Linked DNA regions of Homo sapiens: all the other regions are linked to region 1. The links come from fine-mapping of genetic effects on gene expression. A gene starts in region 1. Each other region holds a variant in brackets. All regions are shown on one strand. Distances are from middle to middle.

Region 1 (10,230 bases):
GCTTTCATACATTATCTCATTTAATCTTCACAACAACTTTCTGAGTTAGGAATAATTATCTTGCAATTGATAAAGAGATTAACTTGTCAATGTTACAGGGGTTTTAACTGGCAGGGGTTTTAAGTGCCAGAGACAGAATTGGAACCCAGTTCAGATTAAACACTAAATGTGAGCTCATAACCCTCCACTCTGTTGCCTCTCTTAATGAACGCTGCTAGGGGGAGCCATTGAAAGGTTTTTAGATTAAGCAGTGATCAGATTTGCTCTTTAGAAAGACTGCTCTGCTACATGTAGAAGCTGGATAAAGGTGGTGACTCTAGAAGCAGAAAGAGGCTGTCAGTACGTCATAGTAAACCAGGTGAGAAATGACAGCATGAACTTCGGCAGTGAGGATAAGGGAAACAAATTCAAGAGATTTTTTAGAAGGAAAAATGATCAGTTCTCAGTAATTAAATGTAAAGGCTGGTGAGAGAGGAATTAGGAATCGTGGCTTTGGGAACCAAACGGAATATGGTATCATCTACCAAGAACAGAGAAGCAACAGGTTTCATTCAGTCAATACGTATCTACAGAGTGCTCCTCAAATGCAAAACACTTTTCTAAGGCCAAGAGTCAAATCTGAAATTATAGTCATGGTTATTAGAATTTATTCTTAAGAGCAAATAACAAAGCACTAAAAAATATAAGGCATATTTAAAATTAATCACTGCTATTAACAGACTTGGCTTAGAGTCCAGTGAAAGCATGTTGTACTACCATTTGTTAAATATTACTACATGCAGGCCAGGCATGGTGGCTCACCCCTGTAATCCCAGTACTTTGGGAGGCCAAGGTGGGCAGATCCCTTGAGGTCAGGAGTTTGAGATCAGCCTGGCCAACATGGCGAAACCCCATGTCTACTAAAAATACAAAATTAGCCAGGTATGATGGTGTACGCTGGTAATCCCAGCTACTCAGGAGGCTAAGGCACGAGGATCGCTTGAACCCAGGAGGTGGAGGTTGCAGTGAGCTAAGATTGTGCCACTGAACTCCAGCCTGGCCACAGAGTGAGACCCTGTCTCAAAAAATAAAATAAAATAAATAAATAGAATATTGCTACATGCAGAAAACAAAAGAGGAAAGGCATCCCATAATTTTATAATGTTATTACATTTGAGTTTGACAGAACTTCAATCTCTTACACCACACACACACACACACACACACACTCACACACGACACATCACCCTGTAATTTGTTTTATTTGTCCCTTTCCCTATAAGTTTATGGGGGGCAGGAATAAAGGTATCTGTTTTATTACCCATATTATAATACATATTTGGGATTTTAAAAAATCCCACTATCGCTACTGTGTCTTGCCAAGAACTTAAAAACCTCCTATTTGACTTCCTATAAAATATGACCTACTTCACATTAGCTTATTTCAGTAACAATTCCTAGACCTTCCCCACAGTTTTCATCCAAGGATGCTCTCTGCGAATCTTAAGGCACAGCAATCCTGTGCAGATGTGGCAAGTTATTATAATTCCCATTTTACTACATAGTTAGGAAACTGGCCCAGGGGAAGTAGAGTAACTTGGAAATAATCACAAAGCCAGATGCCAAAAATAACAACTTTTAGTCAATCCATGAGAAAATACTGCCCCTAGTTGAGATAACATGAAATTTAGTATTAGGAGGAAGCAAAATGCAAAATAATGCTTTAAAGCCAAGTCCTGGGTCTTATTTCTAAAAATGAACAGAAGAATGAGATGTATAATAACTTTCAAACGAAACAATTTTTTCCTAATGCCTTACCCATCAAGGGTGCCAAAGGTTATTTAATGAATTACATCTGGCAAGAATGGCCTGTCAACCAAACCAATTTTGATCTTACCCACTTAAAAAAAACATTGATAGAAATCTGTTGGTATAGGACAACAGATAACTTTTTAACAAACCTAACTGCTTAAAATCTAATGCCTACAAGTGTGTATTAGTACAGATTTGAAAATATTGCAAGTCTCCTGTTTTCTGAAAATATACTCACAGATCCATCAGCAATATGCATGGATAATAAAATTTAAAGCTTTAACAGTTAATACTCAGAATGAAAGTTCTCCAGCCACAACGCATCCAGATTTCGAAATATGCTGCTGTTATAATTTAATTAAAAGCAGTTTTATTTCACCAATCATGTAAGTAAAAGTATTACACGATTTAGAAAGAAAAACGCAACTCAAATGGTAAAAGCGCTTTTATCATGTCTGTGTAATCATTCTTACAGGTACAAGTCAGAGCAAAATACCTTCCATTACTACACAGTATTTACACTTTGCTCCCAGTCAGAGAACCAGTGAGCTCAAGATTTTACCTTCAAAACAATGATTATGTACAAGAACAAGTAAGGGAGACATAAGATTATTGGTAAAACCCACTCAAGCGACCCAGACTGCAGATTTTCACAAAAAAACTTATGTATCAATCATGAAAACATGGTTTTCCATTAATTAAAACTCAAACTACTAATTCTAATCACAGCCAGAAAAAAAAGTATTTTCCAATGCTCCAATACTCGTTAGAGTAGATCTCGTATGTCCCCTATCAACAACACTTCACTATTGTAGAACTTCAGTTTGTAAATGAAATGACACTCCAAATGATTTTATGGGTAACATACCTTCTAAAAGTAGAGATCAACCAGTAGAAAAAAAACAAACTCTTGAAGAATACCTTCAGCATAGTAATCCTGGTAAATATAATAACTCTTATTCCTAGCACCCAGAATAACTCAAGTCATTAGAATACATCACACCACACCCCCCACCCCCATTCACACAACCCCAAGCTTTTAGCATTACCAAAACAATAAGAACTCGAAACACTTCAAGGGTTCTTTAACACTAGGAAGTGTCTTTAAAATAATCTCACTACAGGCTATTACGTGTGTGTGTGTATATATATATATAATATACATATTATACGTATACTTTTTAACTGCATTTGATTAATATCTTCCACAAAGATCTTAGAAGCAGTATTCATCGACCAGAAACTGCACTCTTCGGTGCTGTCCTCATTTCAACCCCAATGATGGGACAGAAGGGTTGTCACGCATCTACAGGGCAGCAAAAAGCACATAACTGTAAACTATCTAATGATTAAGAAAAAATAAAACATTTATATAAAATTCCCAAGCGGAATGCCTCTCCTTTTCCTTATGAGGCAGAAGTTACTGATAAATTCTAAATCCAGATTTCTAGAAAATGCTGAAATTCTCCGCCCCAACACTCACAAGTTTTTAACATGGAAATTCACTCAACTCCTACTCACACGCCAAATGAATATCCATTGTGGCTATCTGAAACTATTCTCAAACACTAACAGAAAAACACATATATACATCTTGAGCCTCCTTCTAACCGTCCTACGATACCCTCCAATCATCCTCAGGCAGCCTAGATTGCAAAGCTTCGACAGACAGCTGCCCTTGGCCTACGCCGTCAGGAACCAGGAGGGGGGCGGGGGCCGGGGGGCGCAAGAACCACCAAGAGACCAGATCTTTTTCCAAGGCTACTGTTTCCAAGCAAAACAACCCACGGCACTAAAAAGACGGCGATGAAAATTGGAGACGCTTTAATCCCGAGAGAAAGGGGTGGCGATAGGGGGGCGGGAGGGTACAAGAAATCCCGAGAAAAAGAGGTGCGGAGGAGAAAACTAAGTATCCCATGCATCTTTCAGACCCACAAAACAACAAACCGTAGAGTCTTGTGTGCACTTAGAAGCAGCAGATGGAGTCCCCGGGGCTGAGACAGTTCAGCAGACGTACACCGTGGGTTGTGGATAAATCAACCGATGACGGGAGAGGAAGGGGGTGCCGAGAGAATAAGCCCGTGGATGGGGGAGACAAAGCCTCGGGGGGTGATCCAGGACCATACAGAAAGGTGAGAGGGGACCCACAGGAGAAAGACAATGGAAGAACAATTAAGGCAGAAATCTGGTGCCCGGGCTGTGGCAGGTCACTGGGCTAACGACAAGAGTGTGGCACAACAAAGGGGCACGGGAGGAAGGACAGCGGAGGGGAGGAGATGGAGAGGGGATGCGGGACGCCACGGGTCGGACAAAGCGCCCAAGGCGGCGAAACAAAGGGCCGGGGGTAGAGAGTCGCAGCGGGTAGCGGTGAAAGACAAAGCGCCCGGGGCCGGGGGCACTAGCGGGGCGAAGCGGCGACAACGGCCGCGAGGAACAAAGATGCACGGGGCCCCCAGGCAGAGCCCGCTGGAGGCGCGCGGGAGGCACGGCGCCCGAGGGCCCCGCGCGCCCTGCCGCACTCACGCCCGCACCCGCCGGCCTCGCCGCCGCCGCCGCCGCCCGCCCTCACGCGCTGGAGCCTGAGCCACGGCAGCGCAGAGCGGCAGCGCACGGCCACACGCCGCCGCCGCCGCGCTCGGCGCACGCGACGCCGCCCCCGCGGGCCCCCGAACGCCAAGCGCGCCGCGGCCCCCGAACCCGCTGCCCGCCGTGAGCTGCCAGACGCCCGCAACTTTCCCGGTTCCCGGCGCTCCGATTCCCTCAGACTTACCCTGTCACAACAGGCGCCATCTTCCACAAACTCTCGCCAAAACTCCAACCCTCGCGAGATTCCCCCCGACGCCTTCCCTGGTCCCTCTCCCCCGCCCCTTCCCTTTTTCCTCACTCCTCGATTCCACCCAGCCCCCGCGCTCCCTTTCCCCTCGCCGCCGCCGCGAAGAGCCAGACGCCTCGCGCCGCCCGCAGAGTAGGGGATCCTGCTCGCTGCCTTCCCTGGAAACCTACCCAGGCGATGGAGCATGCGCAGGCGGCTCCTCCGCGGGCGAGCCCTCCGTGTGGTCCATGGGGAGCGCTCCGGTTATCCGGGTTTTAGGACGCGCTTTGAGGGACGTACGTGGAGACTGAGGAAAACCGGAGGGGATTACTACGGGGACGAGGAATGGAGGGGTCAGGAGGCGGGGCCGAGGAGAAGGGAGGAGGGGTCCTGGGAAAATGGGCTGCGTTTCACAGGCCTAGATGAAACACCTCCTCAATGGGTGTTTTCCAAGCGGCTTCCCGCTCACTCTGGGTTCCCAGCTATTTTCATTCATTCAAACGTTCCCTGGGCGCCTCCTTTATGCTAATCTCGGCGTTTGGTGCAGGAGCGCCAGAGATGTCTGGGGTTCGGGCAAGTGACACGTCGGGGACTGTCTTCATTCATTACACCCCCCCATGCTAATGAGGAGGCCCTTCCAGAGCTCCTCAAGCGGAAAACTTTTGCAGTTGAGCTCTCTCGCCTTAGCGTTCTCCTTGGGTGTGAAATGAGGTCAAGCCAAGGCCTCTAGCAAAGACACCCCTAATGGCCACCTCGCAGACACACGCCAGAGCGCGGAGTAGTTCTCTCCAGAAGGGAAAACTGCCTTGGAATTGAGAGCCACATTCTCCCACCTCCGAGTCTGCCCAGAGGACCCGATCAAAGCTCTTGCCGCTCGCGTGCTGCATGGCCTCTCTAAGACCCCATCGCAGCCACCACCGTGTGTGAGCCCAGGTGTGTGTTGAGACCACTACTGCACAGGGAACCGGGCCACCCGAGGGCCTGGCACAGCCGAGGACGCTGCCGGCTGCCCGAATCGCGCTTCAGGCGGCCTGATCCCGGAAGCCCCCGGGCAAACCTGGCCCCACCGGGCATGGAACAGCAGGGTGAAGGGCCCGAATCCCGCCCCCTCCTCCTACCTGCAGCCCCCCATCTTTCCCCTCCTTTGCTCTTTCCTTTCCTAGAGATTCCCAGATCCAGCACTGCCTCCCGCAGGGAGCCCCAAAACCCGGAGAACTGGAATTCGCCGCCCGAAACCTGTTGAAGGCGCTGCAGGATTGGCGCGGCCCGCGCGAGCGGCACTGCGCATGTACCCAATGCGGGCAGTCCAGTCTCACGCTACACCTCCTTCCCACCGCCTTCCACTACTCGGCTCAGACACAACACGGCCGTGGGAAATTTCCTAAACCTCGCGAGAACGTGCCCCTGTTGCCTAAGCTTTCGCCCCAAATCTCGCGGAGCCAAGGCAGGACAGGTGTTTGCCTAGACCAGCTCCGGGCGCCGTTCGTGCAGCGCGTGCCCGGGAGGCGGGCGGCGGGCGGCGGGCGCGGGCGGGGTGGGAAGGGAGCGGCTTGCCGCGGAGGCGGGGCGGGAAGGCGCGTGGCTGGGAGCACGGGGCGGAGGGCGGCGGGGGAGGAGACCCGCGTCTCGCACACAACACGCACACGCCCTGTGACGCTGGATGGAAGACGAGGGGTGGGGAGCCTCGAACGGAGGAAGGGGAAGCCAGGAGGTTGGAAGTCGCTGCCGGTACGGAGAGTGAGAGGTCAGGCTCTAGGGCAGGAGGAGCCCCAGGCCGATCTCCCGGGGAGGTTTCCTGTCGCCCTCCACAAGCCTGGTACTTTCCTAAAACGTGTTAGACACCGCGCCCCCCGCCTCCGGGAGCTGACAGACAGCCTCCAGAGTCGGGTTTGAGTCATGCCTTGAGTCACCTAGTCTGGCCACTACTTCGCTTACTTTGAAACAAGTTCTGATTCCTTAGCTACTCTACTTTAGCAATTGGTTTCTTTTTTTTTTTTTTTTTTTTTTTTTGAGACGGAGTCTTGCTCTGTCGCCTAGGCTAGAGTGCAGTGGCGCGATCTCGGCTCACTGCAAGCTCCGCCTCCTGGATTCACGCCATTCTCCTGCCGCAGCCTCCTGAGTAGCTGGAACTACAGGCGCCCGCCACCACGCCCGGCTAATTTTTTCTATTTTTTAGTAGACGGAGTTTTACCATGTTAGTCAGGATGGTCTCGATCTCCTGACCTCGTGATCCGCCCGCCTCGGCCTCCCAAAGTGCTGGGATTACACGTGTGAGCCACCGCGCCTGGCAGCAATTGGTTGTTTTCTTTCTAATCTACCCGCTGGCCCTGTGAGCTGGGTAGAAAAATAAATAAATAAATAAATAAACAGCTCTGCGCTCTCGCCTTGTTGCCTTGTATAGATTCTTGCTCCCGTTTAAGGACACGATTTTTAAAATTTCTTGTCAGTCTCTTCTTAGCCTTTTGAAGTAATCTTACAAATCAGTTTCTGTTTTTTCCTCCCACTAATATGGCTTTTTTGCTTTCCGTCACCTTTCCGTATTTTTATTGCAATATTCCATTTTACGTATGGCTGCGGCAGGTGCTATAGTGACTACTGTTTTAAATGCAGCCCTTCCTTTTGGATCATTCATCCAATGAGTTCCTGATTACGTAAATTCTTCAATCAGCCACGTTTCAGATTGGCCCTGATGTGGTTTCTATACCAGCCTTAGCCTGGCATTATCTAGGAACCAGTGTCTTCCTGCTCACGTCACAGCCCCGCAAATGTAGAGTTGAATTGAATTTTGATATTTGGAGGACAGTGAGTTCTCTAATAGGAAACCCTGGTTTTTAAGTTGTTTTCAAGGTTTTAGGGGTGTGTGTGTGTGTGTGTGTGCGTGTGTGTGTGTTTGTGTTTGCCTATTGATTATATACACAAAAAAACAGACTTAAAACCATTTGGTGCAATATCTCAGTGCAAGTCTGGCTTGGAACAGGATAGCTCAGGAGGAGGACAAAGCCCTTGGGGCACATATTCCTTGGAGCTGTCATCCCAAGAAGGTATTTCAGTCATGGCCTAGTCCAGACCACTGATCTAATTTGGAATCATGGCCTTCTGAGAGCCCCAGCGACCTTGGGAAGCCATGGTAACCACAAAGGGAATAACAGCTCCCCCTTTTTGCCCTAAAACATGCTCCATCTGCAGCCCTCCCCCATCTCAGGAAAGGACAACTCCATTCTTCCACTTATGTCAAGAACCTTGGAGTCCTTGCCTCCTTTCTCACACCCAAGATACAATTGGACGGAAAATCCTATTGGCTCCACCTTCAGAATATACTCACATTCCAAATACTGTCACACCTCTTTAGCTACTAGCCTAGTCTAACCCATCTTATTTCCCACCTGGTTTAAGGAAGTTCCCTAACTGGTCCTCCCTTCTTCCGTTCTTGTCTTCCCGCAGTCTGTGCTAATAGAGCATTCTCAGTGGCCCTCTAGAACTCCTCCATGACTTTCCCATTTCACTATGAGGACTTAGACAATCTTGCCTACTGCCAAACCCCCCCTGATCTATCTGCCTTCACCTCCTCCTCTACCTCTCACTCTGTGGGCTCTCACCAGTTGCCTTCCTTACTGTTCCTGGGATGCCCCAAGCACACTTTCAGCTCCAAGCCTTTGCTTTTTCCACTACCTGGAATGCTCTTCCCTCATATACCTTATAGCTCATTCCCTCACTCCTTTCTTGTCTTTGCCTGATGTCACCTCCTCAGGGAGGCCTTCCCTGACACCCTTCCCAAGAGGGACTCCCATACTCCTTATCCCCCTTTCTGCTTGATTTTGTCCATGGCACCTATCATTAACTAACATAACATTTATCATACTTGTGTGTTGTGTTTACTATCTGCCTCCTTCCATTATAATGTAATATTAATAAGGGCAAGGACTTTTGTCTAGTTTGTTCATTATTCAAGCCTTAGCTGCTGGAACAATGCCTGCTGTATTATATTTGTAGAATGAATGGGGTGTCTTCCACTTTAGGGCAGAGTAAAAATGATTCTGAAGACTAAGCCTCCTAGGGTTCAAAACAATATTAGGACTAGACTAGCAGTGAGTACTAGCCTGCCTAGGGAGGAGAAAAAGGCATATGGAGCAACCACCTGTGTTGGTTTTTTGCAAAAAAAAAAAAAAAAAAAAAAAAAAAGTCGTCTGGGTTAGACCAGTAGATGAGGCTGCACTTAAGAGTTTCCTTTACTCTCCATTTTAGAACTTCAGGAAAAAAACAACAAAAACACCACTAGCCGGATATGTGTGTGTGTGTATATATATATATACACAATATGTGTATATATATATATGTGTATATATATATATATCAATATGTGTATATATATATCAATATGTGTATATATATATCAATATGTGTATATATATATTATATATATGAATGTATATATATGAATGTGTATATATATGAATATATACATGAATATATATATGAATATATATATGAATATATATGAATATATATGAATATATATATGAATATGTATATATGAATGTATATATGAATGTATATATGAATGTATATGAATGTATATATGAATGTATATATGAATGTATATATATGAATGTATATATGAATGTATATATATGAATGTATATATGAATGTATATATGAATATGTATATATGAATGTATATATATGAATATGTATATATGAATGTATATATGTGTATATGTATATATGAATGTGTATATATATGAATATATATATATATATATGTTGCGGGAAGTCAGGGACCCTGAACGGAGAGACTGGTTGGAGCCACTGCAGAGGAAGATAAATTGTGAAGATTTCATGGACATTTATCACTTCCCTAATAATACTCTTATAATTTCTTATGCCTGTCTTACTTTAATCTCTTAATCCTGTTATCTTCATAAGCTGAGGATGTACGTCACCTCAGGACCACTGTTGTACAAATTGATTGTAAAACGTGTGTTTGAACAATATGAAATCAGTGCACCTTGAAAAAGAACGGAATAACAACGATTTTAGGGAACAAGGGAAGACAACCATAAGGTCTGACTGCCTGCGGGGTGGGGCAAAAAAAGCCATATTTTTCTTCTTGCAGAGAGCCTATAAATGGACTTGCAAGTAGGAGAGATATTACTAAATTTTTTTCCTAGCAAGGAATATTGATAATCAATACTCTGGGAAAAGAATTGCATTCCTGGGGGGAGGTCTATAAACGGCTGCTCTGGGAGTGTCTGTCTTATGTGGTTGAAATAAGGACTCAAATATGCCCTGGTCCCCTGCAGTACCCTCAGGCTTATTAGGGTGGGGAAAAAATCCTGCCCTGGTAAATTTGAGGTCAGACCAGTTCTCTGCTCTCGAACCCTGTTTTCTGTTGTTTAAGATGTTTATCAAGAGAATACGTGCACAGCTGAACATAAACCCTCATCAGTAATTCTAATTTTGCCCTCTGCCTTGTGATCTTTGCTTTTGTCCTTGCCCTGTTTCCTCAGAAGCATGTGATCTTTGTTCTCCTTTTTGCCGTTTGAAGTATGTGATCTTTGTGAACTACTCCCTGTTCGTACACCCCCTCCCTTTTTGAAATCCTTAATAAAAACTTGCTGGTTTTGCAG
Region 2 (10,230 bases), 46 kb after region 1:
ACATTAAAAGCAAATGTAAGCAACCACGGGAATTTGTGTAAACATTGAAAATATCAAACAGGCCGGGCGTGGTGGCTCACGCCTTTAATCCCAACGCTTTGGGAGGCCGAGGCGGGTGGATCACGAGGTCAAGAGATTGAGACCATCGTGGCCAACATGATGAAAGCCCGTCTCTAAAAATACAAAAATTAGCTGGGCGTGGTGGGGCACGCTTGTAGTCCCAACTACTCGGGGGGCTGAGACAGGAGAATTGCTTGAACCTGGGAGGCGGAGGTTGCAGTGAGCTGAGATTGTGCCACTGCACTCCAGCGTGGTGACAGAGCAAGACTCTGTCTCCAAAAAAAAGAAAATATCAAACAGCAGCCAGTGCAGCAAAACTTGCCCTTTTCTATAAGTGGCTAGGCTCACAGCATCATCCTCTCTTCTGCCCAACTGGATTGAATTTACTGGTATTCATTTGAAACTACCACCTGTAACAGACATTTTCTTCAAACAAATAGTTAACATTTATTGAGTACATACTGTGGGCCAGGCACTGTGCTGGGTGCTTCATGTGTATTATCTTATTTAGTTCTCAACATGATCCTATGAAATAGCTACTGTTATTTTCTCCACTTTAGAAAGGAGGAAATTGTGCAGAGAAAGCTAAGATCATACAGGAGCACAACCACCCTGCTCCCACGGCAGCACCCTTAGCCACCAGGCACTGTGGCCTCCTTAGAACCTTATATATCCATCCCATAGCCAAACTTCCTGATGCCTGCCAGATATCATGTAAGTGGAACTCCCACCAAAAGCTATTTTTAAAACGGACTAATCATTGTTACTTCAAATCTGCTAGAAACTGACAAGAGTTGAGCTTAATTTTCTCCTTGTAAAGCCCCTGTCAGGAAAATTATAAAGACTTGTAAAGGGGCAAAAGAGATTTTTGAGTGTTATTTCAGTAGAGTCCCTGAGTGTCTTAGGAGATAGTCTGGGAATTATCTGCTTCTATAGGAATAGAAACTTTTGATTATCTTGGATTGATTAGTCTATTTCATAATCCTATAGGTGTAGAAGTTAAGTTGTAGAAAACCGATAGCAATGCAGATGTGTCCTGTCCATAGTTATTCAAATGATTCTTGTTTTGAATATGCACATCAATTTTATCTGATAGTAATGCAATTGATTTCTACCCAGTAAATGACCCAAAACACTACATATTTTTTCTATCAGATATCAGCCAATTTTGTACCTATTAGTAAATTCATTGCAACATTCCAGATTGCCTACATATATATCTGTTTTTCAAATTGTCCTTTGAATTGGTTTTAACATTTTTTCTGGATCCCTCATAAATTAATAAATTAAAATCTTTGGCATAGGTTCACTTTATATCTTCATGACAGACGTGACTTTACTTTTTTGAAAATGTTATGTAGCATCCTATCTTTAGATGAAAAATTGAAGATGAATATGAAGTATATGTTATAAAGTAACTGGGAAGCAAAGGCAGCACAGAGAAGGTAAAGGAGCAGAATCAGCGAAGAGTTCCTAATCAGAATGTCAATGCCACGGCATTTGCGTTCATACTACTATATACTGTCCTTGGCACATAATAGGTGCTCAATAAATATTCAGCAAAGGAGCTAGCTTAGAAGGCAAGACACACACACAAACACACACATATACATGAGGAATAAGCAGCAACTTGGAAAAAAGGCATTGATTGACACATGTGAAAATAACTTGTAAAGATTAGATGGACACTGAATCGAATATTTTAAAGCCCGATAGAAACCTATGGGAGAGAGTAATACATTTAAAAACACTAATCATGCTTGCAAAATTCTTCCTCTGGACTTTTGGGGCTAGAGAGGGTCAGGAGAGCATTTCTCTCATGAAAAAATTTGAGCCCATATGAGCATACTAAGTCTCTCCCTCTGACTAACACTTGCCATCTGTTCCTCCATCACTGCCATCTTAGTTTTAAATCCTGCAAAGGAAATGAATAGGCCCCTGCCACTCCTTCGAGATTGTGTGTCCAACACACCATCCACTCACAAATCAGGGCTTTCCTGGGCACCTATAGCTTGGCCGGGTTGGCACTTTCCCTACAAAACTCCCCAGGATAACTCACCAAGGCCATGCATTGAAGAACCCAGCCCTGTGGCGCTCAGGCTTGCAGCCTCGTCCTGGTCCCAAGAGAAGAGAGAGGCTTGTATCTGGTGGGGGTGAGGAGCCAGGTGGAGATTCCTAAATCATAAACTAAGGAATTCCACAAATGCTGAATTTTTCATGAGTGCTAGCATTACAGAGAGGGATCAGAACCAAATTTTTTCAAGTTCAGCTTTTTTGACTTTTGACTTTTTTTTTTTTTTTGAACAAACAGGGTCTTGCTCTGTCGCCCAGGCTGAAATGCAGTGGTGTGATCACAGCTCACTGAAGCCTTGAACTCGTGGGCTCAAGCATCTTCCTGCTTCAGCCTTCTAAGTCTTCATACCAGCATGCCTGGCTAATTTAAATTTTTTTTTTTTTTTTTAGAAATGGGGTCTCACTATGTTGCCCAGGCTGGTCCCCACTCCTGGCCTCAAGCAATCCTCCCACCTCAGCTTCAAAAAGCTCTGGGATTATAGGCGAGCGTGATTCTCCTGCACCCAGCCAGGTTTTTCACTTACAGAAAATTCTATGACTAGTTTATTCCGTGCCAGCAAAGAGAATATCATCTAGCCAGAATAAATACATAAATACATTTAAATCTGATTTCACAGGTTGAAGAAGAAAGGCAGTTTTTGACTCCGCCCTTGCTACAAAGGAAACAGACAGAAAGAAGAATTTCTTCAAAGATACAATTTGAGTTTGCTTATTTAAGGTTGCTTTCTTAACATAGTATGTGCTCAGTTAATATCAGACAGTCACTCCTGTAGCTCTAATGTCATGGTGAAGAAAAGAGAAGGATTTTTTTTCTTTCTCATTTAAATGATTCAAAGTGTTATACATATAGCATTTAATCAGCAAGCCCATGGAAACAGAAGAGTAATCAACAGGGACAGAATTTCACTGTGTTGACAGCAATGGAAGAACAAGCCTGAGGCCCAAGGCCATGTTAGATTTTCCATAGATTGCATTTCAATAGATTTCTGTGGATTGTGTTTTTTTCAAGGAGGCGATTTCATTGGGACATGTAGCATGCAACGTCACAACCACCAAGCCTTGCCCAAGCAAAAACCCAGATCTCATCTAACATCCACAATTTCTGAAGCTTTGTTTTAGTTACCATAGGGAAGTGTTTTTAAAATCAGAGACCTTAAAAGTAGAAACTTAAAATTTACAACAGCTTTATGTATTTATTTTATGTTTTCTTTTTCTTTTTTTTTTTTTTTTGAGATGGAGTCTTGCTCTGTCACCCAAGCTGGATTGCATGCACAATCTTGGCCCACTGCAGCCTCCGCCTCCTGGGTTCAAGTGATTCTCCTGCCTCAGCCTCCCAAGTAGCTGGGACTACAGGCATGTGCCACCATGCTCGGCTAATTTTTGTATTTTTAGTAGAGATGCGGTTTCACCATGTTGGCCAGGCTGGTCTCAAACTCCTGACCTGAAGTGATCCACCCACCTAGGCCTCCCAAAGTGCTGGGATTACAGGCGTGAGCCACCACGCCCAGCCTACAATAGCTTTAAAGCTGTTAGCATGTCACTAAGTATCCTTTTTCAGCCATAAAAACTATGATTTGGGCCGGTTGCGGTGGCTCACGCCTGTAATCCCAGCACTTTGGGAGGCCGAGGTGGGCAGAGAGGTCAAGAGATCCAGACCATCCCGGCCAAGATGGTGAAACCCCGTCTCTACTAAAAATACAAAAAAGTAGCTGGGTGTGGTGGTGCACGCCTGTAGTCCCAGCTACTCGCAAGGCTGAGGCAGGAAAATCGCTTGAACCCAAGAGGCGGAGGTTGCAGTGAGCCGAGATCGCGCTACTGCACTCCAGCCTGGCAACAGTACGAGACTCCGTCTCAAAAAACAAAACAAAACAAAACAAAACAAAAAACCTATGATTTGGAGAGAAGTTGACAGTTGTGTTATGTCAAGATACCTCTTTCCTGGATGGTTTTTCTCCGGCGACTGACTTGACATGTTGCTTAGCCACACCCGAGTCACATAGTCCCCCTGGGTTTTAATTTCTTTTTCCGGTGTTAGTAATACTTGTTCCCTTCCTGCCCCACTGGCCTGTTGGGAGGCATAAGTAGACTCATAGCATGCTAGGTCCTCCCTTTTCATTATCTTCCTAGGAAAACAGTTACCCATAGGAGCCCAGAACCTTGCCTAGAGTCACCCTGCCAGCAAGTGGCAGAGCTGCGATTTGAATCTGGGGCTTATGCATCTGATTCTGCTGAGGATGTCAAATTACCAGGCTTTGGTCTAAGCAGAAGTCAGGGGACAGCAGTGAAAAGAGCACGGTTCCACACCTTGATGCCGTCTCTCACTTTCCCTCTGTGTGACCTTGGGTAAGTTATGCAAATGCTCTGTGCCTCAGTTGCTTCATTTATGAAATAGGGACGATGACATCTCACTAGTCTATTACAAATATTAGTTGACAATGTGGCCATCTCCCTATCCCATGAATGCTATCTTCCTTTATGGCTTCTAATCCCTTCCTCTAGCCCTGGTACTTTAGAAACTTTTTTCCTTTCCTTTCTTTTTTCTTTTCTTTTCTTTTTTTGTTTTTTTGAGACGGTGTCTCGCTCTGTCACCCAGGCTAGGATCATGCAATGGCGTGATCTCAGCTCACTGCAACCTCCGCCTCCTGGGTTCAAGCAATTCTCCTGCTTTAGCCTTCCGAATAGCTGGGATCACAAATGTGCACCACCACCCCTGGCTAATTTTTGTGTTTTCGATAGACGAGGTTTTGCCATGTTGAGCAGGCTGGTCTTGAACTCCTGGTCTCATGTGATCCACCAGCCTCAGCCTCCCGAAGAGCTGGGATTACAGGTGTGAGCCACTGTGCCCAGCCTTCTTCTTCTTTTTTTTTGAGAGACAGGGTCTCGCTCGCTCTATCACCCAGGCTGGAATGCGGTGGCATGACCACAGCTCACTGCCACCTCAAACTTCTGGGCTCAAGGGATCCTCCCATTCAGCCTCCTGAGTAGCTGAGAACATAGGCACATGCCACTGTGCCAGGCTAATTTTTAAAAAAATTTATGTAGAGACAGGGTTTTGCCGTGTTGCCCATGCTGGTCTTGAACTCCTGGGATCACGCAGTCCTCCTGCCTCAGCCTCTTGGACTGCTGTGATTACAAGGGTGAGCCACCGTGTCTGGCCAGAAACATTTTTCTTAATCAAAAATCATACCTTCTCTTATCTTCCTTAGGGTTTCAGAAAGTCTCAAATCCATTCATTATTTAACAAATACTTATCGAGCGCCTACTATGTATGTGGCACTGTTGTGGGTGCTCGGGATGCAGGGTGTGGGTGTGAGCATGGGGCAGATGGCAGAAGATAGGCAGAAAATCAAATGAAGCAGTAAAATATAACACATGTACAAAGTATTTTAGGAGGTGAGAAGTGTTATGGAGAACAATAAAGCAGAGAAGTAGAAAAGCATATATCTGGGGTTGAGGCCACACCTGTGGTTGGGAAAGACTTCTCTGACAAGGTGACATCTGAGCAAAGACCCATAGGCAGCAGGGGAATGGAAGAAGAACAAACTTTTTTTCCTCTACACCAGAGAAGACACAGACACCTCCAGGAGAAGTAAAGCCGGGCCTAATCGGATTCCCAGGAAGATGCAAATGGCGATGACTGTGTCTTGGCTGCGTTCAGCTTCAAAGAAGAAGAGGGAAGAACCGTTGGCATACCAAGCACTGGAAGGGTGGCGGCAAGGGGCACCGGGAATGGCTGTGGTTACCAGTGATGCAAACAGACCTCCCACTTCCCCACTTCTTCCTGAAAG[T/C]GGAGGAGGGGAGGGAGGCAGTTGAGTGAAAAGAGCTCCCAGGCCCCGCTGCTAGGTTCTTCTGCAGAAAGATTAGTACCCCTAGGTGCAAGTGGGATACAGAGTGGTTCTTCCCTGAGCCATTGGAATCTGTGCCCTCCTCTTAGATTCCAGAATGGCCTCGGACATAGATACTGCTCTCTGCTGCCAGTTTCCTTCCAGGCAGCTAGAGCTGGAAAGATCTTCATCCTAGCTGCCTGCCAAGGCCGGGAGGCCCGCTCCACGCTCCCTCGGAGGCATCTCGCCCTCTGGGAGGTCGCCAGGCAGACAGCTTTGGAAAACTGGGAGCTTGGAAAAAAGTCATTTGAATTTTATAAAGTGGTAACTACTGTGGGGCTTTATGTAATAAAACCTAAATGCCATTTTCCTCCTAAAGCTCTCGGGTGAGGTAACAGTTCTCTTTAATGTCAGCTCAGGAAGTTTTACCCAAGAAAAAGGAGGTGGAGGGGTGGTGTTTGCCAAATCAGGAAATGTGCCTTAACTGACTAGGAACTTAAAAAAGAGGCTGAGGCAATGAGAGGAAGGGAAGTGGGAGACAGCAAAAGGTAGTCCTGCAAATGAGTAAACTTGGGACACACAGGCCAATTTTTATTTCAAGTCAATTTTGTTGGTTGAAACTTCCTTTTTATGGTCTGTTGTTTTGAAAAACTTGGAGTGAAAGAAAATCTCAAACTTAATACAGTCTTCATGAAAAAAAAGCACCTAAGGTATTAACAGGGATTCCAGCGTCTGTAATGTAAACATTCACCTTAGGCATGGAAACTCTTGCTTGAGAGTTGCAGAGTTCCCTGTTTCACACCACAAATCTAACCACAGCTTTCTGCGCAATGTATGGTTTTAAACAATGAGTACATTATGCAGATCCAATAGGACTTTCCTCCATCCCATCACCCCCTTCCTGGTGTTAGACCTACCTCATGGTTTCAAATATGGTTGGTGCACCCCAAGGACAGAGAAAAGTAAGCCCTATTTTTAAGCAGGTGTTCAAGAACCAGGAAGAATGAATCACTTTGGAAAAAATGAAGACAAAATGCAAGTTCATCTGCAACCAAATCTGTAGTTTTGTTTTTTATTTATTTTTTATTTATTTTATTTATTGTAGAGATAGACAGGGTCTTGCTCTGTCACCCAGGCTGGAGTGAAGTGGCATGATCACAGCTCATTGCAGCCTTGAACTTCTGGTCTCAAGTGATCCTCCCACTTCAGCCTCCCAAGTAGCTGGGACTACAGGCATGTGTCACCACACCTGACTAATTAAAAAAAAATTTTTTTTGTACAGATGGAGTCTCACTACATTGCCCAGGCTGGTCTCCAACTCCCAGCCTAAAGTGATCCTCTTGCCTTGATCTCCCAAATGTTGGGCTTATGGGTGTGAGCCACAATGCCCGGCCTGTAGTGAGTTTTAGAAAATAAAAATGACGTCTTCATTTTTTCTTTCTTGCAAATATCTCAGTTTTATCTAGAAGATCTTTTTCTTTCCTGCATATATCTAGGTTTTATCTAGACCTTTGACTTCTGTCAAAGGTGTGAAATTTAAACCTTTGGAATTTTATCCAAAGCATTTTTGCCCTAAAAGCTTTTTTCCCTATTGATTCTTATACCTAATATTCCCAACCCAGTCCTGGTTAAGGCTGCCCTAGTCAGGAGACATTTTTAAGAGACAAAGCAAGTGACCCAAGGCACTGGCCCTACAGAAATCTGGAAGCTGGTACAAGCATGTATGCACCCATGTGCCTATATACCTGTGCCCACTGTGCACATGTTCAAGCACGCACGTGTCTCTGTATGTGGTTGCTCACACGTGTGCATGCACGTGTGTGTGTGGCAGTGACACTGTGCAGAATGAATGAAAGGACATCATAGTTTGTATGTTGAAGACTCATGGGTCTTTCAAAGTTGATAAATCTGGCTTTCACATAGAAGGCGAGGTCTTAGATGAAGATAAAGGAATTCAGGAAATATCATCCCCAAAATGACACTTTGGTATGCTGATTACTTTGAACTGAGGACACCTGGGACATAGCATATGCAGGCAGAGGCTTTCTCAGAACTCCCTATCTGCCTACTGATGGATCCTCTAAAAAGAACTCAGTTGTCATGAATCCCCTCCTGGGGAATTTCATCAAGCAGAGAAGATTAACTGGGATCACAGGAGAGGAGACTGGAGTTCGACACCATAGCCAGACAGACTTTGCCACAGGCTGTCACCTATTCTTCTGAGGTCCTGTTCATCTTTCCCCCAAATCAATCTCTCCTGAGTTACCTACATCTCCCCTCCCCTCTCCTTTATGAAGAGGGAATATAAGACTCTAGATCCACCAGGTTTTGAGGTACAGTAGTCCCCTCCTTATCTATGGGTGATAAGTCTCAAGCCCTCCAGTGGATGCCTGAAATCAAAGATGGCACCAAACCTTATAGTCTGATGTTTCCTATACATGCATACCTATGATAAAGTTTAATTTATAAATTAGGCTGGGCAAGGTGGCATGCATCTGTAGTTCCAGCTACTTGGGAGGCTGGGCCAGGAGGAGAGCTTGAGCCTGGGAGTTTGAGACCAGCCTGGGAAACATAGTGAGACCCCATCTCTAAAGCAAATTTAAAAAATAAATTAGGCACAGAAAGAGATTTAACAATAATTAATAACAAAATAGAATAATTAGAATAATATACTGTATAAAAGTTGTATGAATATGGTTTTTTTCTCCTCAAAATGTCTTATTGTACTGTACTCACCTATTTTCGAACCATGGTTGACCGTGGGTGACTGAGACAGAGGAAAGCAAAACTGTGGATAAGGGTGGGGGGGAGGCGGATTTTATTCATGTTTCTTTCATGTGACACCCCTGTGCATGTAATAAATTTGTATATCTTGTCTCTTGTCAAGCTGTCTACTGTCAGTTTACATCATAGACTCAATTATCAAACCTTCAGAGGGTAGAGGGAAAGTTCTCCCTCCCCTTCCAAAAAACCCTCCATGCTAACTGGACCTGGGTAGATCAAGGGGGATGAAGTACACCTAGGAAGGACTACATGGATGGTTTTCAAGCTCTAGTGCCTGCGATACTTAATAAAAACTTTTGGAGGTTCCCAACCCCAAAGATTCTGAGTCAGTTGTCCAGGGTGGAGACAGGAGTTGGCATTGTAACCAGTGTACTACCGATTTCTCCTTCCTTCCTTCCTTCCTTCCTCCCTCCTTTCATCTTTCTTTCCTTTTCTTTTCTTTCTTTCTTTCTTTCTTCTTTCTTTCTTTCTTTCTTTCTTTCTTTCTTTCTTTCTTTCTTTCTTTCTTTCTTTCTTTCTTTCTTTCTTTCTTTCTTTCTCTTGCTCTCTCCCTCCCTCCCCTCCCCTCTCCTCCCCTCCCCTCCTCCCCTCCCCTTCCCTTCCCTTTCCTTTCCGACAAAATCTTGCTCTGTTGCCCAGGCTGGAGAGCAGTGGTACGATTTCTTGGCTCACTGCAACCTCTGCCTCCCTGGTCAAGCGATTCTCTTGCCTCAGCCTCCCAAGTAGCTGGAATTACAGGTGACTGCCACCACACCTGGGTAAGCTTTGTATTGTTAGTAGAGGTGAGGTTTTGCCATGTTGCCCGGACTGGTCTTGAACTCCTTACCTCAGGTGATCCGCCTGCCTCAGCCTCCCAAAGTGCTGAGATTACAGGTCTGAGCCGCCGTGCCTGGCCCCATACCAGCAATTTCCCATGGCGAGGAACACCAGTTTACCCTATAAGCCAGATTCTTCCACAATGTTTCATTAACTCTTTCCTAAGTGTGTTGCTTTTTACTGAGGCCTGGGTCCTTTCTAAAAATAAATGCTAGTTTGGCCTCAAAGTAATTTGGGTTGCCAGTTTTGACTCTTTTCTCTGTCATTCTACCCCTCTCCCTCCCCCTTCACTCCCTTCCCTCAAATTATTCTGCCCATACCCGCTCACCGCTTCCTCCTTTTCCTTAGTTTTAGTTCAAGAAGCCATTTAATGAGCTTCCACTAAAGCTTAAAGGGCTGAGGCTGTAAGAATGAATTGAGACAGAGTCCCTGTCTTTGAGCAGGTGAAGTCCGGTGGGGGAGGCAGGTAGATAAAACAGATCATTTCAGCAGGGAGAGCCACACATTAAAATAACCAAGGTGACGCCTGGCGAGGTGGCTCACACCTTTAATCCCAGCACTTTGGGAGGCCGAGGCTGGCCGATCATTTGAGGTCAGGAGATCGAGACCAGCCTGGCCAACATGGTGAAACCCTGTCTCTACTAAAAATACAAAAATTAGTTGGGCATGGTGG
Region 3 (10,230 bases), 240 kb after region 1:
GGACCAAGCTGTCTTGACCTTTTAAGTGAGTTTGCTAATCTCTCCACCTGTTTTCTTTGCTAATATAGCTGTTCTTTCTGTCATGCTAGTGTGCACCCGGGGAGCTGACAGAAATCATTGGCTCTTGATACTGATCATGCAATAAAAATGGCAAGCTGATTAGTCAGCCAGAAAGGAGAAGCCTTTTTCCCATTAGAGGCATGATCTAATGCTGTAATCACCTAGCCTGCTGACAGCGGCCAAGTGCTTGTGGTCGCAGAGTCCTCAGAACAGGTGAACCCTGTTAAAAAGCACCCTTCTCCATGGTTTCAGCTGTCCTGCAGAACATCTTAAGTCTCAGTCCCTGAAATATAACAATGAGACGGAACTCCTGTGTCCCTGAGTTTATGACAACCTTCCAAGACCATCCTTTTTGTAAAAAATATATATATATGCAAATAAAAGAACTCCAGCTTCCAAACCAGGAGGCTTCAGGAAGCCCAGGGTTCTTCCAAGGAATGTAGACACAGTCTTGGCATTCACTTACCATTTCTCCACCTGGATGTGTGTCCCTGATCCAATGGATTCAGTGCCTCCCTTCACCCCAAGACAATGCTAACATGAGGCTTTCTGGCTCAACTGAAAGCTTGAAAAAATTTCAGTGCAGAGAGGGAAAAATGAAGCTCAGTGTCAGCCATGACCAACCATACCCCAAGTCCTTGGGTCAAATCTCATCCCACCCAATTCCTACTGGTCTTCCTTCACCTTCAGGCTCCCAGCACATTGCCAGGTGTGCTCCTATGCCGTCTTTACCTCCACACCGGGGTTTGCATTGACTGTGTTTCTCTTTCCCTGAATGCCGTGCCCCCACAGCCTCTTCCCTCTGTCTACCAGTGGAAGCCCCAAATCCATTAACATCGGTACAATCCTCACTCTTTTACTTTGGTAGACACAGAGCTTGAGTGTTTCCTTGTCTAGGCTTTCCCATCCCAGAACGGAATTTCCTTTTGCACAAATAAAAGCTCAATTAAGAACGTTTTCTCCACCAGAAAGCGGGGCCCCCACAGACTAATTTGGGTTTCCATTTTTAGCAGCACAAAGAATTGGCAGAAGCTTTGAAATTGCAGTTCTTCCTCAAAGACGCCCAAGAGCCCAGATCCAATTCTGAGGCAGAATCAAAGTTCACCTACTGAATTTCCCTCCTCTTACTTCCATGACAGGGAAAGCTTTCCCCAAGCCCTCAGAGAACTTGATCTTTGTAAAGTAGAAGATGCAATTCTTCTCCCAGTAATCAGCACTGGGTGACTTTGATCAAGAAGGTTAACTGGTCTGAGTGTTGGACTCCCTAGCTATAAAATAGAATTAATAATACCTTTTCGCCATAGGGTTATTGTAAGAATATTTAAAGAAAGAACTTAAGAAAAGTGTCTGGCTTGGTGTGTGGCACACAAAATACGTTCATTACTTCTTCCTTTCATTGTATGATTAAGCAATAGTTTGCTTTGTTGCCTTATACAAGGATTATAATATAGTTCTAAGGATTATCTGAAGTTCAGAAACTGGTTAGCGAAGATACACTGAGCTCTCAACAAAGTCAACATGCACTGCATTATAGAGTGTTCTCTTGGCTCCATATCTGCACATGCCTGTAATTATTTATTTGAGATGAATTCCCAGATATGGAATTCGTGGTCAAGAGGTACATACATTTTTAGGACTGCCGCTATACATTGCCAAATTGCCTGACAGAAAGTCTGTGCCACAGACTTCTTACCTCCCCCACAGAATTGTGTCCGAGAGCCTATTTCTTGAAATCTTGAGTTTTTCCTCAAAATGTATTAGCTTGATGGGAGAAGAGCGGTTGTGGAATTGTTTCTCAAACCTGGAAAACAAGCATCCCACAAACCCAACTCACTTATTTTAAAAATGAAGATCCTAAGACTCAGAGAGATTAAGTGACTTGGCGAATTCATCTAATTAGTAAGACAGCCAAAATCCATACCCCATGTTTCCTAATGCTGGAATTCTTTCCATTATACCACTCCAGAGAGAGAGTGTTAGCCCTGAGGTGAAACCACTCAGGGACTGCTTAATAACAAAGTTCAATTAGACCAGAGGGAAGGCGCTGTAGAGAAAAGTGCTAATGCAGAGAGCTTTAATTAGTGTCTGGCTAATTCATCCTCAGATAAGTACAGTGTAGTGTTTGTGTTAGCACCACCTACTGGTGAAAATTTAGACTTGTACAGGATTCCTTTTATGGAGTTGCAGGTAGAATGGGAAAAATCTCCGGAAGATTTGGACTGCTTTAAACTGTCTTATTCTAGAAAGAAGTCGGTAGAAAAATGAGTAGGTATGGAGTCATTGAGTCATGAACCATAAGGACTTCAACTTCTGTGGTCTCAGAATTGCTGTGAATGAAGTTCCAATTTCCTGCAGCAACAAAGTCAGTTTCCTGTTCTTCCTATCGGCTATGTAGAATGTAAACCTCTTCATTTTTCTATAACCTAATTTCTAGTTTAAGTCTACATTCTTCTAGTGGCAGGAAACTTAATATATAGTGTCTTCCTGGTAAAAATCACTCACTTCAGTGTTTATGCAGTCATGCCGGTTTCAGTCACTCAATTCAAAATTTCATGCCCTTCCCTTCTTCTTGGGGTTGCTGGTAAGATCCTGGAAATATAGGATGGTGTAGGTGTAGAAAACGGGGTTCTGGGGGACTGAGAGAGGGATGGGGTGGTATGGTCCACAGGCATCCTTAGCCTGAAGCAGACCTGGTCTTTGGCCATCAGCACCTATGCGTAGTGGCACCCAGGGGCCATACTTGGAGGCTGCCAAGTCCTCCATTGTTAGAAAGCCCTCCATCTCCACTGTATCTTCTTGTCCCAACCTCAAGCTCTGCTCAGGTCTGCGGCCCTCTTTTGGCCATTTTGTGCCCATTTTGGAGGCAGGAGCAAGGGAAACTTTAGGATGCTCTCTTACATGGGCCTGGCTGTGACAGATCGGGGGCTTTCCTGGGGCCTCCCCACTGCTTTGCTCTGTTGCGCTCTCTTCTCCACTATGGCCAGCATACAACGCAGGGGATGGCAAACTATGCCCTGTAAAGGGCCAGACAGCACGTATTTTAGATGAGTACTCCACTCTGTTACTGTAGCACAAACGCTGCCACAGGCAATAGATAAATGAACGGGCATGGCTGTGTTCCAATAAAACTTCACTTACAAAAGGAAGTGGCATGCTGCATTTGGCCCTCAGGGCCCTTGATGATCTCGGTATGTATCTGTGCTGTTCTCCCCTAACTCCAGGCGTCTCCCGTAGATCAGGGCACACATTCTCAGGTCTTGGCATTACTAAACCTATCTTGATGATTTATCACCCGCTACCCCACTTCAGAAAATCACAAGACGAGGGAGCAGGCAAAGTGCAGGACCCCTCAGGGCTATGTCAGCATCTTCTTCTTCCCTTCTCCTCTTTCCCTAGCTAGAGCAACCATCCTTTCCTCTCTTTCCATTCTCTTGTTTGTAGTATAAACTTTTATGTCGTGCTTACGTGGGGCTTAGCCTTTAGATTTGATCACACTTTTCTATCACAAACCTTGGCTATGGAGGACCCACCCAATCTCTGTAATAAGAGTCAAGAGCCTAAATGATTCAAAGTCAAGAACTTGACATTTGTTCTGTGTTCTTCATAATCCCTCCCTTCCCTGTGAGTAGTGGATACCTGGAGTGACTGGGAATATGGTCCCATGATGTCCTCTAACCCTTGCTAAGTTCTGGGCTTTGACCAAGCCTCAGCCATACTCTGAGGGCAGCTGGATTCAGGTAAGTTTGCTGGTCTGGTATTTGTTCCTCTGTCTTTATCCTATGAGGAAATAAGAAGAGTAAGGTTAACTTGACATTGTTAAAAAAACTGCTCACTCACATGAATAGAAATGAATCCTTTTGGGGCAAAACCATTTAGAACAGAGCGTTTCAAACTGCAAATTGCAACCCTTTAGGGTAGGGGTAGGCAATTTTTTTTCAGTAAGGGCACAAATTGTAAATATTTTAGGTTTTGTGGGCTGTACTCAACACGCAACTCTCAACTCGCAACTGCTCAACTCTGCCACTGTAGTGCGAAAATGATCAAAGACAATGGGTAAACAAGTGAGCGTGTCTGTCCTGTAATTAAACTATTTATGAATACTAAAATGTGAATTTCATATAATTTTCACCAGTCATGAGATATCATTCTCCTTTTGATTTCTTCCAACCACTTAAAAATGTAGAAAATTTTTAATCTTATCTTTTTAACTTTTATCTTATCTTTTTTATTTTATTTTTTGAGACAGAGTCTCAAAAAGTTGTATGGAGTGCAGTGGTGTGATCTCAATTCACTGCAACCTCTGCCTCCTAGGTTCAAGCAACTCCTGCCTCAGCCTGCAGAGTAGCTGGGACTATAGGCATGTGCCACCATGCCCAGCTAATTTTTCTCTTTTTACTAGAGACAAGGTTTCGCCATGTTGGCCAGGCTGGTCTCAAACTCCTGGTTTTAATGCAATCTGCCCACCTTCGCCTCCCAAAGTGCTGGGATTGCAAGTGTGAGCCACCGCGCCTGGCCAAAAATGTAAAAAACATTTTTAGCTTACAAGCCTTACAAAAAGAGGTGGTTAGTTAGATTTAGCCCTGGGCCATAATTTGTTGACCCCTCAATTAAGGGGGTCATGAAATCAGTTAAGTGATACTGGACAAAGAATTTTTTTAAAAAGAAATAAGATAAAGTAGAATGAAGGAGACAAAATATCAGAATATACTGTACACAAAAAAGGTTTTGTAAAATGTTGATTTCAGTTAATACACATTTGTGTGTATTGCACTGTGATGCAAAATGTATTTCTTGCTGTGGAATGTGGCTGGAAAAAGTTTGAAAATCAATTTGGAGAAACATTTCTTTCAGTGTGACATTTTTATTTCCAAAGAGTTATGCCTTTGTTTATTCCACACACCTTAAGATTTGATGTTAGTGTTGCCAGATAAAATATAGGACACTCAGTTAAACTTGAATTTCAGATTAAAAATAAATAAATTTTTAGTATAACTATGTTCCATGCAATGTTTGGGAAATACTCATACTAAAAATTACTCATTTCTTATCTGAAATTCAAATTTGACTGAGTATCCTGTCTGTTTTTCTAAACCAGACAATCCTATGTGGTATATTACAATTGGTTATTATTATTATTGTAATGATCTTAAAACTCAGGTAGGGGCAGCCCAGTTCAGCTGGTAACTTAAGGGAAAATTGACATTTAACAGTTCTTCCTATATGCCAGGTTTTGTGCCCTCTCACAATTGCAGAAGCACTAGCCCTCACTACAGCCCTCTAGGAAAGGTACAGCTTTGTTATCTTCACTTTACAAGTGAGGAAACTGAGGCACAGTCTGACCTCAACAGGGGATTTAACAGTATAAGAGGGATGGTTCCAAGTCCTTGCCACACCACCAGGCTGTTGGGAAAGGCAAGCCCTGTGAAAGGGCCACCAGCTGTTCTTGGTCCTGGTGGTGCAGTCAGGAAGGCGGAGGGGACAGTGGGAGTGGCAATGAGGGTGCATTGTCCATGGAGTATTGAGCCCAGTGTAAAGATGATCGAAGTCATTTTATATTCACTATGCAATGCCAGTGATAACCTGTCCCCTCCCCATCGAGGCTGACTTCCCCACCCGCTTGACATGCCACTATTTGGCATATGATTGGTGCTCAGAAAATGTTACTTTCCTCTTTCTTCCTGCTCTTCTTTTCTCTACCTTGGCAAATGAGTTGCAAACCACTTGCCCATTCTGATTAGTAATGACAGCCTGGACTGCTGGATTGGGAAGGATTCTGGAGTTGAGTCTTTGCTCAGAGTAAATGAGTGCTGTGCTCTGGAGGCTCATCTGCTAGAGAGAGGTAAGAAGTGGGTACATAGATAGATACCACCTGCCACCCTATAGTTAAACGCTTTAACCTACAGAGCACAAGCAAGCATGCTGAGCAACGATTCCCCGCAAGCCCAAAACTCCTTCCCACTTAAGACAAAGTAAGAGAGGAAGA[G/C]GAAGAGAGTTTCTATCCATCACATCACCTTGTCCCACCCCCTCTAACACACGCAACTCCTGAGTGACCTGGAGCTAGATGCTGGAACACAGATTGGAGAGGCACAGGCAGGCTGGACAGGCAGGCAGGGCACAGGTTTGCTGGGCACCAAAGGCCAGAGGCAAGTTAATATCTCCCCTCCCACTGCCCTTCGCTGCCTGAAGCTTTTGCACTCGGCTCACCATAGTGTGACCAGGTGCCTCTGTTCACATGCGCCTTTTTGGAAGCTGTGGGGAGGAATGCCCTTCCTTGACTCAGTTATGTGCATGGCTGGAGGCAGGGCTACAAAAATAGACTGAAGGCAAGACTTTCCACTCTTCCATTTCCCCAAAAGTAGTTTCTTCTTGGACACAAACTGCCATCTTCTCTAAATTCCCAAATTGAGTAACCACTTGGAAGGCTTTCTTGTTTTTTTTTTTTTTCTTTTTTTTTTTCAAATGATTTTTCCAGCTGTAATTTTTCTTCAGTATGGAATTTTGCTCTTTCTGCCTTGAACTTCATTATAAATCCAAGTTTAAAATCAGAACTATTATAAATAGCCTTTGTGTACAGCAAGCGTTTGGGCATGCCATGTTTTAACCTTGAAGTAGCCTCCCATTTAGGTGGCTCTATAATTCCTCAGCTTGTCCGTTTATCCTCTGCCCCCCCAAATTGGAGGTAATATTAGAAAGGCCATGTGCGGGCACACCTTCAGATGAAAGGAGTTGATATATTTAAGCGCATGTTTAAGGTCAGAGAGAAGGAATGTTCAAAAGCATAGAAAGGTATTCGGATAGTTTCTTGGATATTTAATACCTTTGGCAACACCTTATTTTCTTGAATTAGGGTCTTGTGGGTCTAGAAATGGCTTCCAAAACTATTTAGTCAATTTCCTCTTGGGGAGCGGTGGTAGAAAGGGGCAATCCTTCCTCTTACAGCTCAGGCCAACTTTCTATTTTGTACAGAGGTGAGGATATTAGTCATGATATGAAGGAGAATCCACGACATTTTGATAATTCTGGCATATGTACATCCGAAAATTGCAAATTTAATTTTTCTTAGCATACCAGAGAGACGAGTCTTCAAGGAAATGGGTCTGACTCTTGAGCTTTGTTTGGTGTTGCTTTGGCCAAATGATTTGGTGAGTCACTTGTTATGGCTTTCCCTCGGGGTTCAGTGTTGTTTTTCACTGTGCCCTTAAAACCAACTTCTAGGCCACTTAGGTGTCTTGACCAGACTTTCTGGGGCCATATTAATTCCAACCTCAGAAATTTTGTTCCTGCTTAGATATCCCCAGGTTTTCTCTCCCCTACATCTATCCTTCTACACAATCCAGATTTCAAGGTCCCTTACAGATCTCAGGTCGGTCAAGCCATCCTTGACTTGTGAAAAACCCTGCGATTTCTCCCATCTTTGAATGCCTTTTGGGATCATCATCAATATCTAATCTTTGCACTTGATCTCTAAGAATCATCTACATTGTTTAAATTTTTCTTAAGGGAAAAGGCTATGTCTTACGCTTTTTCTATATTTTCCAAAACACCTGCCCCATGTTGGGCATGCCCCAATCAATACTGGATTGATAAATGATTGAGAAGTCTTCACTAGGCCTACAGTTCATGCATCTATAAACATGGAGCTTCCCTTTATCTTTGTAGGGTTTGACCAGAATTTGCCCCCAGCCTTACCCGATTACAGGAAAAATAGTGTTCAAAGTAGGAAGCTAGTTCTGTGAATCCACATTTCCTTTGTTGGGCAATGATCTAGCTGCATGTGGCATAACATTTGCTGACACACAGTGTACTCACTCTTTTTTTTTTTTTTGGTCAGAAAAAGACTATTTCCATTCAAGTCACAAGTGGTGAAGGGTGGTGTGGTTTCTCTGTGACCTTAGGCGAGTCATTTCACCACCTTCAGCTGCAGTTTCCTCTTCTACAATTTTCCACCTCTAAGGTTGGCAGTTCTATGGTTTGGGGGCTGCTCAATGCTTCTAAGATCTCATCTAACAGATTTGTTTGCATGACAATGGGAAGGATTCTAAGGTTCAACTTCATTCTCCGCTCTGGATCTAATGTGGATGGATGGGGCCAGCAATGCTAGTAATTATTGGCTGGGACCTTCTCTCTGTATTAACCAGAGCTCCTTATATCATTCTAGCTAGCAGCTCAGAGCCTACCTTGAGGATGGCGGCATTAATCTGTCTGCTTAGGGACATCTAGACATTCTGCTAATCGTTCTTGCTACCACTATGGATATCCCTGATAGTGCAGAATCTTCTGCCTGTGGTTCTGTAAATGGGCCAAGTTAATTCTTCTGTTAGAGCCTTTGGAAAATTCAAGACAGGTACCAGTGACTAATAAAGTGACTAATAAAGGCTATATTAAATGCCCTTTCTCTTTCTTTTTTGTGGTTGATGCAACAACAAGATTGTCTAGTCTTGTTAGCCATAATTTTATAAGTTGTTGGCTTTGGTGATATATTTCTGCTTTATCATTTTAGGTGTCACATCTTGAGGACAGATGTCTTGTGTAAGACATGGGCTGATTTTCACTCGACAAAAATTGGCCCTTGTGTTAGAGGGAGAATAGAGGAAACCACTCTATTATTAGACTTTGAAATGAATGTTTATGGCCCTATAAAGTGACTAGCTAGTCTGCTGTCTGCCATGATTGAAGAGAGATCTAAAGCTAGGTCTAATTAAGAAATATCTATTATCTGATTGCTGTTGTGTTTAATAAGCTATTTAAAACAGAGAAATTATTTTGTGGAATTTAAAAAAGTGAGTTGATTGGATGCATCGGATTTGGACTTCTAAAGGATTTGCAGCATTTTTTCCTAAAAAGGCATTGTTCAGTGGGAAGTGACAGTGGGATTATTGCTCCTTGTTAAGTAAATTCAGCATGTGATTTATGTGCTTATATTTCCATGCACATTCAAGGAACCAATTCTCCTTTGAAATTTCCAAAATAGTGATGCCAAAAGAAAAAAAAAGAAGAAAGCGAGGAAGGAAAATCAGAGTTTCAGAAGAAAGTAAGCTGTTTGGATTAGAACTGAAACCACATGGGGTCCAGAAATCTTGTAATATTCTGCCCATTAAAAGTTCTTCTGCAAATAAATGTGCACATGCAAAAGTGGGGGTCGGAAAGCCATCCATTTGGATTCAGCAGCATGTCAGCCTAATTATACTAGACAATGCTGAGCTCAGTAATTCCACTTTTGATCCATTGCTGTGTGAAGTTCATTATTATCTGTTTCGAATTATTGTTCATTTCAAGAGCCGTACAATGAAAAAGCATGTCAAGACTGTGAAAGAGCCCTTGGCCTTCCCCGAAAGCTTTGTGAAACATTTCTTTGGAAACATTTCTGCTGAGATGGTGCATTGGCCGTGAGTGGGTGTAGGGGATGGGCGTCTGTGCTTCCCCTTTTCACATTTGTTTACCTTAAATACATCTCCATGGAAACAAGACCTGCTTCTGAGTTGACTTGAGGGTTGTCTGTAAGAGGAATGAATAGCAAAATATAGATAGCTAAAATTCTCATATAATCCAAAAAGGATCAGCCAAAGTGAGGGACACTAAGTGTCATTGAGCCCTCTTCAAGACTGATGATTTTAAATAAGGTTTCTCATGTAACGCTGAGAGGTAGACGGTATTGTCTCTGTTTTACAGATGAAGACCTTTAACTTCTAAATGTTTACTCAAATAGGAAGCGACAAACCCAGATTTGAACCCAGAACTGTCTGATTCTGATGCCCACGCTCTTTCTATAAAACCACATTGCCAGTCGTTTCACCCTTTCCTCCCACCTGCCCCAAGCATTTTCCAGAATTGTATAAAAATGGGCTACCCTTGATGTTTCCGTCTTTTGGGTGATTAAGTGCTTGGGAGGGAAAAGGTACTATGAAGAAAGAAAAACAAGCAGTCTGCATCATCTAAATGTGAAATCACCAACAGCAGCATAAACAATTGTCCCCTGTACTTCCGGAATCCCAGGCCAGGCCAGAAAAACCTCAATTTGCTAACAAAGCCTCAAGTAGGAAGGCCTCCATTTACCTAATTGTTGTCTTTGCTGCACTTTGAGGAGAAAACAAGACAGTGGACTGGAAAGAGCCCCAGAGATATGAGTTCAAATCTTGACCCCACCACTTATGACTTGCGGGACCCCCAGCC

What was found.
Region 2: its variant is fine-mapped to the expression of RBPJ in whole blood (TOPMed, PIP above 0.99).
Region 3: its variant is fine-mapped to the expression of RBPJ in whole blood (INTERVAL, PIP 0.97).

The regions. Positions count from the first base shown.
Region 1 is chr4:26,315,380-26,325,609 of GRCh38, reverse strand. RBPJ (recombination signal binding protein for immunoglobulin kappa J region) reads right to left here and starts at 4,596. Exons shown (of 11, transcript NM_015874.6): 1 at 4,562-4,596. The coding sequence starts at 4,581. RefSeq lists enhancers at 3,219-4,140, 5,373-5,422, 6,513-6,562 and silencers at 4,253-4,352, 4,423-4,552, 6,023-6,292.
Region 2 is chr4:26,269,406-26,279,635 of GRCh38, reverse strand. It overlaps LOC124900690 (a long non-coding RNA gene), which reads left to right and starts at 4,211. Exons shown (of 4, transcript XR_007058094.1): 1 at 4,211-4,476. It also overlaps a transcript of RBPJ not described here. The variant T/C (reference allele first, on the strand shown) is at 5,922.
Region 3 is chr4:26,074,057-26,084,286 of GRCh38, reverse strand. It overlaps LINC02357 (long intergenic non-protein coding RNA 2357), which reads right to left. Exons shown (of 3, transcript XR_925506.3): 2 at 3,697-3,837. Among named protein-coding and RNA genes, the nearest start is that of LINC02357, 8.4 kb to the right of the region's middle. RefSeq lists enhancers at 2,908-3,087, 9,276-9,355. The variant G/C (reference allele first, on the strand shown) is at 6,044.